2 separate regions of the Homo sapiens genome follow, and region 2 is linked to region 1. The links come from fine-mapping of genetic effects on gene expression. A gene starts in region 1. The other region holds a variant in brackets. All regions are shown on one strand. Distances are from middle to middle.

Region 1 (8,965 bases):
CACTCTGTACCCCAGGACAGAATGCAGTGGAGCCATCACGGCTCACTGTACCTATACAGATCTCACCATGTTGCCCAGGCTCGTCTTGAACTCCTGAGCTCAAATGATCAGCTCGCCTCCGCTTCCTAAAATGCTGGGATTACAGGCATGAGCCACAGCACCTGGTCTATCCTTTGCTTTTCATTAGGTCTTCCCACATATAGATAGATGTACTTCTAAACAATATATTGTCTAATTTTGCATGCTTTTGAATAATACTGAATATAATCTTCTATGGATTTGCTATTATTATGTTTGTGGGATTCATCCATGTTGCTGTGGCTGTTAGGTGGTTGTCATTCAGGTAATTTCATTGCTGTGTTCCATTATATAAATGTATCAAAATTCATTTGCCCACTATTCCTGCTAATGGACATTTGAGCTGCTTCCAGTTTTTTGTTTGTTTGTTTGTTTGTTTGTTTGTTTGTTTTGCTGTTACAAAGAGTGCTGTTATTCTTATACATCTCTTCTGCTGTCCAGGTACGGAAGTTTCTCTGGGGTATGTACATAAGAGTGAAATTCACATGTACATCTTCATCTTTACCAAATACTGTCAAACTCTTTCCAGTGTCAATAGCATCAGCACTAAATAAGAGTTTCTTTTGCTCCACATCCTTATCAACACTTGGTATGCAAATTAAAAATTTTTTTTTTTGCCAACCAGCAGGTGTAAAATGGTTCTCATTGGAGATATTATTTTGTATTTTTCTGATTACTGGTGAAATGGAAGTATTTTATATGTTTATTAGCCATTTATAGTTTTTCTTATGAAGACCACCTGTTTATATTTTTGCCCATTTTTCTACCAGTTGTCTGACTTTTTCTTATTGACCTGAAGGAGTTATTTATATATTCTGGATGTGAATCCTTGGTCAGTCACATGTATGAGAAATAAAAGTTCTGAGTTTGACTTTTGTTTTGTTTTGTTTTGTTTTGTTTTTTGTGGCAGGGTCTCACTCTATTGCCCAGGCTGGAGTGTAGTAGCATGATCACAGCTCAGGGCAGCCTTGACCTCCCGGGCTCAGGTGATCCTCCTGCCTCAGCCTCCCCAAGTAGCTGAGACTACAGGCATGCGCCACCATGCCTGGCTAGTATTTTTGTATTAAGATTCTCAGTTTCTGACTTATCTTTTTACACTTTATGGTGCCTATTGATGTATAAAAGTTCTTAGTTTGGCTGGGCATGGTGGCTCATGCCTGTAAACCCGCACTTTGGGAGGCCAAGTAGGCAGATTGCTTGAGCCCAGGAGTTTGAGACCAGCCTGGGCAACATGGTGAAACCCCATTTCTACAAAAAAACCCAAAAATTAGCTGGGCGTCATGGTGTGAGCCTGTAGTCCCAGCTACTCATGAGGCTGAGGTGGGAGGATGGATTGAGCCTGGGAGATCAAGACTTCGTCCTGCCAAAATTGTACCACTGCACTCCAGCCTGGGCAACAGAGCAAGACCCTGTCTCGAAAAAAAAAAAAGTTCTTAGTTTTATTGTAATTGCACTTATGAATCTTTGTCTATGTGGATTGTATTTTTTAATTTGTTTAAGGGATGCTTCCCTATTGTAAGGTTATAGCCGGCACCTATTGAGTACTTTCTATGTTTCGGGTACTCCTTATCATCTCCCTTTTACAGGTGATAAAGACAAGGCTCAGAGAAATTGAGCAACTAGATGAGGTCATACAGCAAATAAGCAGTGGAGTCAGGATTTGAACCCAGACAGTCTGCCTTGTGTTTGCACTTTAACAATTGCCAAACTGTTGTTTATAGAGATGATGTCATATGTTATTCTATAAGATTCAAAGTTTCGCCTCTCTCATCAAAGTCTCTAATCTGGACTTGGCTTATGATGTGAGATACCTGAATTAATCCATACCCTTCTCTACTTTGGCCCCTTAAAAGCTCCTAACTTGAGTAATGCTTATTGTAACACAACTAGTATTGACTGAATTGTGCTAGAGATGAATTTTAAAAAAAACATTTTATTCATGGGAACAATCAACAATGCGGACTACTAGAGAGGGGAGGGAAGGAGGAGGGCACAGGTGGAAAAACTACCTACTGGTACTATGCTCACTACTTGGTTGCAAGAAACCCATGTAACAAACCTGCACATGTACCCCTGTATCTAAAAAAAAAGTTGAGAGAAAAAAAAAAGCTGTTTTGTTAATGCTGCCAGTGACTGATCCCAGGCAAGGTAGGCAAAATCTAACCCTGCTCTCTAAGTAAATGATTTGGCACCAGAGTAGAGTTCTTCAAATTAACTGAGGAAGACAGACTTCCACGTTTCAGCCCTTTTTTTAGCTTTTGGCATCCCGTAAAGTGAACAGGATATCCCCTGAAGAAATCCCACGAGAGGTAGAGGCCGTCACAAAGTACGGAACAATCTCCACAGCTCTGCCTACACTGCTGGGACCAAAATAGTTCACATGGCATTCCTGCCGCCTCCTTGTGAACTGTGTGGGAAGGAACGCTGGTCACGAATTCTTCGTTTCAACCACCCACACACACTAGGACAGCAGCAACAGCAGTGACATCTTGGAATCTAGAGAACACCACGTGGTAGGCTGTACATCAAATCTTCTCTGCATCATGTACCATCTTCCTCCAAAATTAGAGGTTTTAAACAAATGTAAAGAAATTGAAAATGTTTTTTTAAATTAAGAAATAAAATGGGAACAAGTTGAGTATAGCAGAGTATCAACTAAAGGGAAAAAAATCAAGCTTTTAAAGAATTAAACTTAGTTTTATTCAGAAGTCTCACTGAATTGTTTGAGGCCAGGAGTTCTAGACCAGCCTGGGAAACATAATGAGACCCCATCTCTACAAAAAATTAAAAAAAAAAAAAAATTGTCTGGGCGTGGTGACTCACGCCTGTAATCCCAGCACTTTGGGAGGCTGAGGTGGGTGGATCATGAGGTCAGGAGATCGAGACCATCCTGGCTAACACGATGAAACCCAGACTCTACTAAAAATACAAAAAATTAGCTGGGCGTGGTGGCGGGCATCTGTAGTCCCAGCTACTCAGGAGGCTGAGGCAGGAGAATGGCGTGAACTCGGGAGGCGGAGCTTGCAGTGAGCCGAGATTGTGCCACTGCACTCCAGCCTGGGTGACAGAGCAAGACTCTGTCTCAAAAAAAAAAAAAGTGTGGACTTCATTATGGCAATAGGGAGGCTTCAAGGCATTTTAAACCAGAAAGTAACACAATCCATTTAGTATTTTGCTTGTTAGCAACTGTACAACTACTTACAATCTGGCTGATAGAAAAATACTAGAGTGGTTGTACCAGGGTTGACTGGTTCCCCTCCCCCATAACCCCATGGCATTCCCACTCATCCTGGTTGGTAGAGCTTACCTCTCACTAGGTTGGAAATACCCAAGAATCACTTTCCCAGCCTCCCTTGCTGGTAGAACATGGGCATGTGACCCAGTCCCAGCCAATGGGATCTGAGGTGAAAGGATGCCAGGAGGATTCTGGAAAAGGCTTTCCTCCCTCAATGGACAAGACCAGTACCTCAGGGATAGCAGAGCAGAAAGGTGGAAGTGACGACATAATAGAACCACATAGAGACACATTCCTCTGGAGATAGCAGATAATTATTGTTTAAGCCACTTTTATTTGGATACTCTGTTACTTGCACCCTAAAGCATGTGAAGAGAAAGAAGCATTAATGAAGTCACCAATATCAATGAATGTGATGTTATAGAAAACTTATCAGACAAGGCATGGCAGCTCACACCTGTAATCCCACCACTTTGGGAGGCCGAGGTGGGACAACTGTTTGAGGCCAGGAGTTCTAGACCAGCCTAGGAAAAATTGCGAGACCCTGTCCCTACAAAAAAATAGAAAAATATTAGCCAGGGCCAGGTGTGGTGGCTCACACCTGTAATCCCAGCACTTTGGGAGGCCAAGACAGGGGGATCACTGGAGGTTAGGAGCTTGAGGCCAGCCTGACCAACACCGTGAAACCCTGTCTCTACTAAAAATACAAAAATTAGCCGGGCTTGGTGGTGTGCACGTGTAGTCCCAGCTACTCAGGAGGCTGAGGCAGGAGCATTGTTTGAACCCAGGAGGCAGAGGTTGCAGTGAGCTGAGATTGTGCCACTGCACTGCAGCCTGGGCAAGAGAGAGAGACTCTATCTAAAAAAAAAAAAAATTAGCTGGGCATGGTGGCATGCACCTGTATGTAGTCCCAGGTGGGAGGATCACTTGGGCCCAGGAATATGAGGCTAAAGTGAGTCAAGATCACACCACTGCACTCCAGCCTGGGCAACAGAGCAAGACCCTGTCTCAAAAAATAAAATAAAATGTAATATAACAAATAGAGACCTTTTTCCTTCAGATATTTATTTGAAGTAAATCAGCCTCTTAAAATTGGGAATAGTTACCTACAATTGTTAGCTGTTCACTGAACATCTCGAGTGCTTAAGCAAGAAACTACACAATTTCTGAGACGACATGTCTTGTTTTTTCTGTATGTGAAATGACTTTTTCTCACTCTTTTCTCTCATTTGCACATTTCCCCTAAGAAACACTGAAAACTGTCCCTGCTCCCTTCTAGGCAGCAATTCTCTTTTCTTGAAGGTCTCTCTTTCATGAACTCATGGAAGTCAAAGCACATTATCTAAGAAAAACCTCAGCATTGTGTAAACAAAAGAAGGCAACTATCAGCCTTCAGGCAACAGTATAGAATCATGGTTTTTTTAAAGTGAGAAATACCCTACAGATCATTTGTGGTCACACATTAGAATTTGAATACAGGTAAAACCAGAACATCTCGTTAGAGTTCTTAAGATTAATAACAACATTTATCTTTCATCCTAAATTCATATATACAGTAGCTGGCAACTTTTCAGCAACTCCACCTGATCCCATCTGAAGCAAACCCAATCCAGTCATCGCACACTGGGGTCCTATGGCTACCACATTCCTCATTCAAGGAATATTTACTAAGGATCTATCAAGCACTGGCACTGAGATTCAATCGCTCGGATCTTTTTTTCTCATATTGCTTACAATATTTCTGGGAACTCATGACTTTTTCATATGCAATCAATTTTTAAAATATCGGTGAGAAACACTACATATGTGATAGAGGACTGGAATTGCCAGGTAGAGATGGGAGATGATAGCTGCTTTGGGTTAGTCAGTGTCTCCTCCTCTTCCATTGACTTGGACAAATGTTTACAACGGAGATGATCTGATTCTGGCCCCGACAGGCGCGGGGACCCGTTGCGGACGGCCGCGGGGATTGCCCCCTTGGGCAGTGCGGCCCCGAGGATGCAGACACTGGCCCAGCGGAAGGAGGGCGCGGTGCGAGCTGGACGGCCCCGGGAGGCCGCAGACCGCCGGGCTCCCCGAGGACACCTCGCACCGGAGGAGGAGAGGAGGCAGCGCCCGGCCAGGCTGGGAGCACCTACGGCCGCGCGGGGGCGGGAGCCAGGTGGCCTCGGCGCGCCCGCCTCGCCCGGGCACCGAGCAGGAAGTGGCTGCGGCGCGGCCTCCTCGCGGTGCAACAGGGCGGGGAGGCGGCCGCAGCCCGAGCCGGAGCCCGAGCGCCGGGAGCGAGACCTCATGGCAGCGGTGGCGCCCGCGGGCCCCGGGGACTCCGCCTCGGCCGCCCTGGACGAGCTGTCACTGAATTTCACGTACGGGGCACCAGGCGCCGGCAACGGCTCCCTCTCGGGCGACTGGTACCGCAGGAACCAGGTAAGGGCCGCCCCGCAGCCACCGCAGCCCGGTGGGGACGCGGCCAGGGCGGCTGGCTCCGGGCGCCTCTGCGCCTCGGCCGCTTTCCTGCCAGCTCTCAGGAAGACACCCGGCCTCTCCGAGTGGGAAGAGGTGACATGCAATGTTTCCCGCATTGACCTAAGTCCGCCTCATCCGGAAGCGCGGGGGTCCGCCCAGTCTTCCTCTCCCGGGCACCCGGCACTGGGAGTGGGCGCCCAGGTCTTCGGCCTTGACCTCAGCCACCCGTTCCTGGGACCTCCGGGTCCCGATCCCGCCTCCCCAGCCTGCGTCCGCCCTCTTCTCCCGGAAGGAATCTAGGAGTGTGGGGGCAATTCACTCATTTTCACCCCAGGATCCTTTTACAGTTAAAAGAAAAGAAAAAAGTGACACCCTGTTATCAGAAGCAGAAAACTCATTAAGGGCAGCCTAATGTCACCTCGCGCAGATGCCCTGCGTGTGTCCCTGGTATCTCAACACAGCTCTTCCATTTCCGTGCGAGGAACACATTTTCTCAGGTTGCATTTGCAGGACTCTCATTCTTTCCCACCGGCCCTTTGGGAAAACTTTGTTAACTTAAACAACGCCAGTTTACACTGGAAATATACATTTAACAAAATCAAAGGGACTTGGAGCCGCCCATTTATTTTTGGCTTGGTTTAAGATGAGGAAGTGTTCTGGCCAGCCCTTCCTCTAGCAGCGTTCATATTGCAACTAAGTTTTATCACGGTGGATTCCAGGCTTCCTCCTGTTTTCATTAAATGTGTTACTTTGTTCTTGTTCTTTAACAAAACCATGGATACTTTTATTTTTGCAACAATATAATCAGAAAATATTTGTTGCTGTTGTCCTAAATCGGAGAGTTTAACCAATTATCAAAGATCTGGATTCCTTTTATGCCTGAAGTGTTCTAAATATTAATTTCTGAATGCAGAAGAGAATATATTTGTATAAAGAATAAGTAAGATAAATAAGCATGTTCACTTTATTAGTTTTCAAGAGGGGAGAGTATTGCTTTAAGTCATTTCATCATAAAAGATATAAAAATAGGAAAAATGAGGGTACTCAGAGCCTCTTGATCAATGTTTGTAATCCAACCCCATTTCTCCTTTCTTCTACCCACAGGAATTACAAAGAAAAGCATCATTTTTATGGGAACTTGAATCTATCTATTATATTATTCTTTTATTAGAAGTATTCCCAATATAAGTTTAAGAATGAGTTATCTATCCCCTCTTGATTAAAAAAAAAAAAAAAATAGAGGGTTAGCAGATGTGATCATCCAAAAACAGGACATTGTTTTCACAGTGGAAACCTCTGTAGTCATTAGTTTTCTTTGACATTTCCTGGAATTCTTGATTGTCTTGGCTGTCTGATATCCAAACACAGATTATCATGTGACATAAATGTGAGGCAAATAAATACTGTTTGCAAGGCTTAATTTGCCTTTGACAGTGTGTATTTGTACAGGTTAGAAAGGATGTATCCAGAATGTGCTAATTGAAATTACTGAGCTGACATCTAAACTTTGCTGGTTTGAGATAAAACTGTATCAAGTTTTGCCATTATTGTGCAAATTTAGGCCCTCTTATAAGATGGTGGTATTTTATCTTTTCAGTAATTGCATTTGTGTTAAGCAAAAGTAAAAATTAATTTTTAAAAAGTTTACTCGAGAAGCATTTTATTGAGTGCCTCTGGTGTTGTCCAGGCCAGTAAAAATAAAATTGAGTCTAATTTTTCTTGTCTTTTTTGACACTGAATAGAAATGGCTGAAAATGGGTGTGGATACAGAAAAACAAAGTGTGAGATATAAATGTGTCACTCCCACAATCAAAATGAATGTTGGTTGCTAACTAGCCACAGCTTAATGATGCTTATTTGCTTGCCTCCATTGGTTTTATCACAACTAAAATATTTGCACAGTGTGTGTTGGCTGATAGCCTAGTTCTCTGTCCCTTTATCCCTTCCAAAGTGATTATCATCAAATCTGATCAATTAACCTTACTACATAGAAAAAGACAAACTTCCCTGGAATGCTTTCATGTAATACATGTTTAACAGTGGCCACTTAGAATCAATGTTGTCTAAGACAAAGGTGTGAGTGCTTCTGGAGGAAGAAACCTCAAAGCAACTCAAAAGTAGTAGTTCAGTGGGGGAAGATGTCTTAGGAGCAGGGAAGTGAAGTCTTTGCCCTTTGCACTACTCAGACGCTGTGTGCTTGGTGAAAAGCCTGGCCTATAGAAGTATAGAAGTGATGGAGTTGTGACAGGTAAACAAAAGGCACTTTATGTTTGATCCACAAGTTTTCAGTAGAGAAGGATAATGTTCCCAAGATGTTTATTGAGCTCCATGCTATGTACAAAGCACTACAGGGATATTCAATATAGTGCAAAACCCAAACTCTTCCTTCTGTGAATATTATTAGGTGTTTGGGAAAATGAGCTATGTAGGTAATGCCAAAACAAGGCAGTATGTTGTAAGTGTCATGTGAGTGATATAAAGTCCCATGGAAATTCAGAGCAAAGGGGCATTTGGCTGGGCCATCAGGGATGTTTTGTGGAGAGGTGGTATTTGAGCTGGATGGTTAATGATGGACAGGGTTTCATTGATAGGCATGCACAGTGTAGGGCACTGCAGGAAAGGAAAAAGCTTAGGGACCCAGAAGCAGCCCTCATGGCCAGGACTGGTGCCTTTCTGAATATTTTCCTTCCTAGAGTACAATTCAACTATCATTCTGGTTGCGGTGGAAGATGGAGACTGACTATAAGGTAGAAATATGGTTTGGGGTCTTGGATATAGTCATGGGTTGCTTTGAAGGACTGGTGACAAAGTTTGGACTTTACCTTGCAGACAGTGGGGAGCCATTGAAGATTTTTTTGAGCAGGAGTGCAGGAATCAAAGCAAATTAAATTTAAAAAAATTTAAATTAAGGCTAGCAGGATTCAGTTTTCAAACTGGCCAGCTGTGGACTAAATCCAGCCTACAGATACATCTTGTTTGACCAGCAGAGAGGCTTCAAAGTCTTCAATACATTGCCAACACTTAAAAATGAGAAGATTAAATATAAAATTTCAAGTTTCCATCATCTTTTTAAATATTAGGAGTTCCAGCAATGCCGGGCCTTTTCCCCCGCATGATCACTGAGCTGGATCTCATGTTTAAAGCAAGCTGTGCTCCCCGCTGCAGCTCTCTTGGTTCTCTTTTCTT
Region 2 (8,000 bases), 52 kb after region 1:
TGGCACCTCTCAGCATGCGCACAATGACCTGTTTCATGTCCTTCCTCACCATTTAACTGAGACCCAGGGGACTGGTGACTGACTGTGTGTCTCGTTGCTTGACATTTGCCCTTCCTGGGAGAGCACAGCACGGGGAAATCACAAAATGCAGCCTGCAGAATTGGTTCAAATTTGAATTTTGACAAAACAAGGATAGGATGTTCCGTTCTAGGGTGTTGGAAGAGATAAATACTTGCTTAAAAGATTTCAATTCCTAATGAAGCACGGTGGTTAAACAGTTCATTGCAAGAGACTCATGAATATTCATGCTTGTGAACACTCATAGGTCTATAAGCCTGTCCTTTGGGGATTGAGTTCAGTTATTTGTGCATCTCCAAAGCGTGGGCTTACATTTAATGTTTTCCTTTTTCTGTTTATCCCCATGACTGTGATCTATGCTATGCCTAAACATTTAGAGATGATTAAAAACAATGAAGTTATCAACAATCCAAAGAATTGAAGCCACATGGAATTAAATAGCTTCATGGCAGACTTCTCTCAGTATAAAATTAACTTGTCTATGGGGCGGCAAGGAAGTGGGATATGGAGGGAGATCATTGCAGGGGCAAGGAGGGAGGGAGGGAGAAATAGAATGTGATGGAAGCACCGGTGACATTTTTCAGTTCTATGCCTCTGAGTATATTGATTAAAAGTAACTAGAAAAGAGTGCAAGAACATATCAGCTTTTTCCAAGTTAAATTCGGGCAATACTTTAGACAAAGTAATAAAGGTAAGAAACTAATATTGAATGAGCATCCACTATGCCAGGTATGAGACACATAAACTCATTACCTCAATCATTGCCCAGCTGAATGGAAATGAGTAATAAATAGATTGACTTTGGGATAAATTATATTAAATTAAGCACTTGAAATTTTGTATGGAAAGATAATAGCAGCAAGATCTCCATGGCCCTAGAGTAAGTTCCTAAGAGAAGTAGTCGCACTGTTACTGAGCTAATTTGTATTAAGGTTGGAGAGCTAACTGCACTGAGAAAATGAGGAGAGCATGAGTCTGATAAGTCTTTTCCATCTCTAATTTTCCCCAATATGCTGGTTTTTGCTCAAATCAAAATTCATGATGTGGAATACATGTTGTTTTGTGTATTTCTGTGGTGCTGTTATGAAGCCCTAAACTGAAATGTATCTGTAATCCATTAGACGACGGTCATAGCAGAGCCAGGAAGCCCTGGTGAGGCCTTTTGGAATTCCAAAGAAATCATGTCAAGGAGAAACTTTGGTCTCCAAGATTTTTATTAGAAACAAATGAAAGGAAACATAAACAGACCAATGAGCAAGTGACCCATAGCGTTACACAAACCTAGATGCTGCGAATTCTCTTTGTCCCTTAGAGCAGTGTGCTTACTGCCAGCCTGGATGAGGTCACCGGAACTCTAAAACCTCACAGGATGCCTGTGATAGTGTCACTTCACACGGACATTGATTTTAATGTTCAAGATATGCAGAAAATATCACTTTTCTTAGTGGCTTGATGAGTTATCTGCTTTTGCGTGTTTGTCCAAAAACCAGCCTACATAAAATGTGTGAAATAAAACTCTGAAGTTTTAATCTATGTCTGCTCATATACGCTCAGCAGAAAGCATTCCTGAAGCCTAAACACTTTATTTGAAACATCTTTTCCACTCATCCTTATTTTTTCAGCATGCCACAAGAGTATTTCTAGAGAGGCTGCTAATGATGAAGTAACACACAATTAAATTTGTAATACAGAATTAATCTAGTCAGTGGTAGTATTTTTACTTTTTTGGAGTCTTTTCAACTTTAACATTAACGCATGCCAAGAAAAATGTAGAAAAGAAAGGATTATTGTTCTTAATCCAGGTAAGTTCCCTCGTTTGAAATTATGCAAATTGTCTCTGAACGACAGTTCCTTCATTATCTTCAGTAAATGACAATAGCAATTTTTTTAATCAACATGAATTACTTGACACTTTTCTTCCTGCCAACATGAATGGTAGAACTTTTCCCGCTGTAAGATGACATTTTTCAAACTGACATATCCTCAGATATTCAAATCTTAATTCCATGGAATACATTGTAATTGACATACCTCTTTTCCTAAAGTTCTACAACTAACGGGGAATGATAATTATGTAGTAGTACCTCAATATGGTTAGAGTTGACTCTGCCTGTGAGCACGCTCGATGTGTCCACGTGTTTGGAGCTTGATTGTGACTGACATGAAAGTGTTTTTGTGGTTTGCTTTTTAGCAGTACAATAAAGTTGCCATTATAAGTGGTCAGAAACCACAAGCCAGATATTTACATGTGAGGTTCTGTTTGTAGCATTATTATGTAAATATGTTCTTTTCATGTCATGGGTTATTTTCTTTTTATAAGAGAGAGTTTTCCTTAGTGTTTTATCTTCTATTTTCCTATATTATAAATATACATCCTGGTTTCTCTTTATATCACAGAGATGACGTAATAAATTGAATGTCCAGGAAATGAAAATGGATGAAATTTTTATTTGTAGGCTAGATTAGAGTTCACAAACTTGCCTGTAGACCAGAGTTGGCCCATGTTTTGACTGGCTCAAACAATGCTTTTAAAGAATACTAATTAATTTCCTATGGGTAAAAATTGGACAATAACACACACACAAAACTGAATTTTTGGCTAAAGAATCAGATTTGGTAGTGCTGGATTTGCAGTTGGCTAAGGCTGATTCAGGAGTGCCACCTTTCACTGATCTTGAATAGTTCACCACGGCCCCACAGCCCATCACCACCATGGCCAGCACCCCCCATCACCACAGCCCACCCTCTCATCACCACAGCCCACCCTCTCATCACCACAGCGCACCCCCCTTATCACAGCCCACCCTCTCATCATCACAGCCCACCCCCCTTATCACAGCCTACCCGCTCATCACCACAACCCACCCCCTCATCATTACAGCCTACCCCCATCACCACGCCCACCTCCCTCATCACCACAGCCCACCCCCTCATCATTGCAGACTACCCCTCATCACCACGCCCACCCTCTCATCATTACAGACTACCCCTCATCACCACGCCCACCCTCTCATCATTACAGACTACCCCTCATCACCACGCCCACCCTCTCATCATTACAGACTACCTCTCATCACCACGCCCACCGTCTTCATCACCAGAGCCCATCCCCCTTATTACTGTGGCCCACACCCCCCTCATTTTTTTTTTTGTCTTCAGAGGATTACCTTAAAGGCCCTTATAGGCATTTGAGTTTGTAACCTGTCAACCAAACGTTCTTTTTCTCCCCAGCTGAATCAGATAAGAATATCATATCCATAATCACATTTGAGTAAAGTATAATTAATTGATTGTCTTAGCTTTGGGTTAGATTTGTCTTTAAGAAGTGATAATAAAGGGTAAAAAAACAGAAAGAAATAAACAAAGTGAACAAAATCATTTAAAAATAGCCATGCCCTAAACATTGAAACAGTTATTGAACAGTCTTATGTACCATTAAGCTTTTAATAAAAAATTATTATTTTAGGGGAAGAGAGTTTAAATAAAAAGCACACATATGTCTTAATGTTACAAATTTAAAAAGGGAATGCCCATTTACCTCTTATTCTACAGACACAGGGTTCTAAACTGACATGTAAAAATCTGCCCTTGAGCTAAATTGCTAACAGAGAAGTTTGGTATTTAACTTCTCATTTATTAATCCACATTAGTAGCTATTACAGAAGAACCTCAAACCAAGTATTTACAACTTTTCTGAATACTCATGCATCAGGTTAATTTATGGTTGGCTTTTTCTCTCTTGTGGCCTGCTATGGGTCTTAGAGCATCAAGTAACTCTTCCATAATAAGAGCTGGTCTTGGACCGAGTCTCATAAACTGAAGGATTTCAGAGAGTAGGTGAATGAAGGACAAACCGAGGGTTGATTCCTAAGTAAATCAAGAAGCACGAGGAAGTGCAACACCAAGACACATACCTCGCTCTGGGACTGGCACCCTCCCCCACATCTAGACATGGTTTGGAAGGCACCGGAAACTTGCTTGGCCTTTATTTTATCTATTTTCATCTGGAAACCTGAATCCAAATGCCCAAGTGTACGTTTCCTTATATGAACCTTGAACAGAATGAATCTCCATTTTGATTGCCAACCTAAGTGACACTTAATAGCCAAAAGAACAGATGACTCACCAATAGGAGTCAGTCCACAGTCAGCAGTCAGCAATTGCTGCTGAAAAGCTTCCTTAAAGCATTAGAGCTTCAAGGGCAACTGGATGCATTAAATACATTAGACTGCTCCATGGAGGTACCATTTTGCACCAAAGGAAACACTAGAAGAAGGTTGCATGTCCTTTCCCCTTACGGATAGTATTCCTGCTGTCTTCCTCCGCCCTGCCCCCCATGACTCCTACAGAACCACCCTTTGGGTTTTGGCATGTTATCTTTTCAAACTTTTTTATTTTTTAACGTAATTTTTAAAATTGTTTTAATTGACAAATAATTTTATATGTTTATGGGGTACAGTGTGGTGTTTTGATAGTTGTATATGCTGTAGAAACATTACATCAGGCTAATTAACATATTTATCATCTCATCGACTTCTCATTTTGTATGGTTAAGAATATTTAGGCAAAAGACCGGGCGCGGTGGCTCACTCCTGTAATCGTAGCACTTTGCGAGGCCAAGGCGGGAGGATCACGAGGTTAGGAGCTCAGAACCAGCCTGGCCAATATAGTGAAACCCCATCTCTACTAAAAATACAAAAATTAGCCGGGCATAGTGG[T/C]GGGCTCCTATAGCCCCAGCTACTCAGGAGGCTGAGGCAGGAGAATCGCTCGAACTTGGGAAGCGGAAGTTGCAGTGAGCTGAGATCGCCAATGCACTCCAGCCTGGGTGACAGAGCCAGGCTCAGTTAAAAAAAAAAAAAAAAAAATCTGTCAGGTGCAGTGGCTTTTGCCTGTAATCTCAGCACTTTGGAAGGCCAAAGTAGGAGAATCAATTGAGCCCAGACGTTTGAGACCAGCCTGGGCAACATAGTGAGACTCTGTCTCTACAAAAAAAATTAAAAACTAGCCAGGCGTGTTAGTACACGGTATTGCCTATAGTCCCAGCTCCTTGGGAGGCTGAGGTGGGAGAATCACGTGAGCTCAGGAGGTCGAGGCTGCAGCGAGCCATGGTTGCGCCACTGCACTCCAGCCTGGGCAACAGAAGGAGACCCTGTCTCAAAAAAAAGAACTTTTAAAATCTACTCTTTTAGGAATTTTGAAATATGTATCACTATTAACTGGGTCACCATGCTGTGCAATAGATCGCTAAAACTTATTCCTCCTGTCTAAAGGAAATTTGATAAATTGGTATATTATCAATGGTACATTACCTTTTGCCTTTTATGCCATGGTATACCAATGGTGTATTACCTTTCACCTTTTATTTTTTTAATGCATTATGGCCATTGTGGTCTAGTGCCTGACTCTGGAGTCACTGTGTGACATTGTGTAATAAACTTAAACTCTCCAAGCCTCAGCTTTTTTATCTGTAAAATGAGTATAACAATGCCAACTATCTCATTGAGACGCTGGGAGGATAGAAAGAGTTAATTATTCCGTGTCAAACCCTTAATAAGTAGAATATTCAGCCACCCTTATTGTGTATATATTTTCCTGTCATAATCATTGTATAAATATAATTTTCTACCTCTTTTAACATAATAGCATAAAATTATCAATATCACTGTGTAATTTTCCATAATAATTTCTATTAGCTGCATAATATCCTACTGATTATTGCTGAACGTTTAGATTATTCCAGTTTTCCACTATGAAAAATAATTTTGCAATTGACACCTTTAGGCTTGAGACTCTCCATTTTTTGGAATACTTCCTTAGGACAGATTCACAGATGCAGAATTACTAGATCAAAGAATTTGAATAGTTTGATGCTGTTGATAGATATTGTAAAATCACTCATCAGAAAGTTTCTATCAATTTACAGTGACTCTAGCAATGTGAGGGAGTACTGACTTTACTTCTTCCTTGTCAATACTCAGCCTTAAAATTGTGTGTGGAAAAGAGCACCTGGCTCTAAATTATCTTTATTACTGATGATTTGGACTTTCCCCTATGTGTTTGTCTACTCTCATTTGTGAATTACTTGTGTTCCTGCCCATTCATTTATCCACTGGGGTTGTGTTTCTTTGCATACTGGTGGGTATACCTGTTCACACATATCATCACTAAGTAAAGAAAAGATGCTGTGTCAAATCTTGGTGTTTTCAGTTATACCTACACACATAGACCATGGTCATCTTGGAAAACAGAGGACCTGTCTCTTTTCCCTCAAATACTCAAAGCCACCTGGGAAAACACAAAGAGCACAGCTTGGTCCATGCACTCTTATTTCTAGTAACTGACTGTTTATAAAATGTTCAAGCAAGGAGAATAATTAGAAAGGACGAAGCACAAATGCTTCCTTTCACCGGTTGAGGAAATAAAACCGAGGCTAGCACATTAACATGTGCTGTATTCCATAGCTGGTTCTGGACAGAGCAACACTCAAACCCAGGTGTTCTACATCCCAGCCCAGCACCCGGCCACCTAGGCAGTATTGTGGAACTTCAGTTCTTCAACAGGACCTTCTTCTTTTCACCTGGAGTGATACTCTGAGTAACAAAACAGTAGGGAAGTCTTTTTGGCTAATTCCTGTCCATATTCCACTTCCCAGCATTCTCATGAATCAGCCTTAGCCTTTCCAATAGAGCATTTCCTTAAGAATAATGAAGTAAGGATGAGTTGAAGACAGCTCAGCTCAGATTAGACCCCCTTTTGCAAATTTTATATATCGGCCCCAAGATAAGATGATTCTTGGACAACTGCAATAGCACCATCCGCCATCACTTGTTGATAAGCTTGTAGGGAAAGGGTGTCACATTTTATAAACATCTCCCACCTGCCAAGAATAACAGTTCACTGACTATGGGCAGTGAGTTTTGGCTGGGAAAATAGCCTGTCTGAATCAGGGACATTTTATTAACCTGCTAGGACTATTGTGTGCTTAGGAGAGCCCGCATCTTCCTCCTGGTTTTTCTTACATCAGTTTTCCCCCCGAAAAAGTACTTTTTAATAAAGCACCAAGATCAGTGAGCACTCTCTGTAGACCCATGTCTTCTGAAGGCCAGAGGGAAAAGCATTCATGAGTCTCTGCCCAAACATGTCTCAAACCAAAAATGCACACACAATTGATTGCTTAAGTAAATATCCAGTCATAACTATGGTTTAACCATAACTAGTACAAATCTGTTTAATTTACAGCTATGTTCTGTTTTCATGCTTTTTAAGTGATTAATCTTGAAATGCTCTATTTTTGAATATTAAATTTTACTATAGGAATAAAAGTATAATAGATTTTCCCCTTTTCTAGGTGTTCATTAGGCAATGGTTATTGTGATAGCAACTACTAGAAAGTGTTGGGCTTGATAGACCTCTGATTACAAACATATATGCGAGTACTTCAGTTGATGTTTTTCTCATTTGAAAAACTTACTACTCTACTTAAAAGTCATGTTATTAGCTGTTGCTCAATACTGCCTTTTTGCTCAACACAGCTCTCATTTTAGCATATTTGCAAGATAAATGAGTTGAAAGTAAATGTATCTTAATAGAATGTTCTTTTTTTCTTGCCTTTTTTACTAGATAAATAAAACTAAAAAATCTTGTTCTATTACCTAAAAATTTTGTAGAAAATCTCAAGTTCTCTTAAAACAGAAAAAAAATGTTATTGGCTGAATGTGGAAGTGCATTAGACTTCTATTATCTTTCAGAAAGGAAGAGTAGCATATTTATGTTTCATAAAATTCTGACAATTGTTTTATAGCAATTGATATAATTTGATACAAGTAGTGTATTTCCAGTTTTTTGTTACCAATCATGTCCTTTTTGCTTTTAGCAATGAAATTATTTCCCATATAACATTTTCCCCTCCTCCTTCTGAAAGT

The links.
Region 2: its variant is fine-mapped to the expression of NIPAL2 in whole blood (INTERVAL, PIP 0.98).

The regions. Positions count from the first base shown.
Region 1 is chr8:98,290,778-98,299,742 of GRCh38, reverse strand. It overlaps NIPAL2 (NIPA like domain containing 2), which reads left to right and starts at 5,508. Exons shown (of 11, transcript NM_001321635.2): 1 at 5,508-5,740. The coding sequence starts at 5,606. The region is part of intron 5 of LOC105375659 (a long non-coding RNA gene); the gene reads right to left. RefSeq lists a silencer at 5,269-5,988.
Region 2 is chr8:98,239,432-98,247,431 of GRCh38, reverse strand. All of the region lies in intron 3 of NIPAL2 (NIPA like domain containing 2), which reads left to right. The region is part of intron 2 of NIPAL2-AS1 (NIPAL2 antisense RNA 1); the gene reads right to left. Among named protein-coding and RNA genes, the nearest start is that of NIPAL2, 51 kb to the left of the region's middle. The variant T/C (reference allele first, on the strand shown) is at 4,797.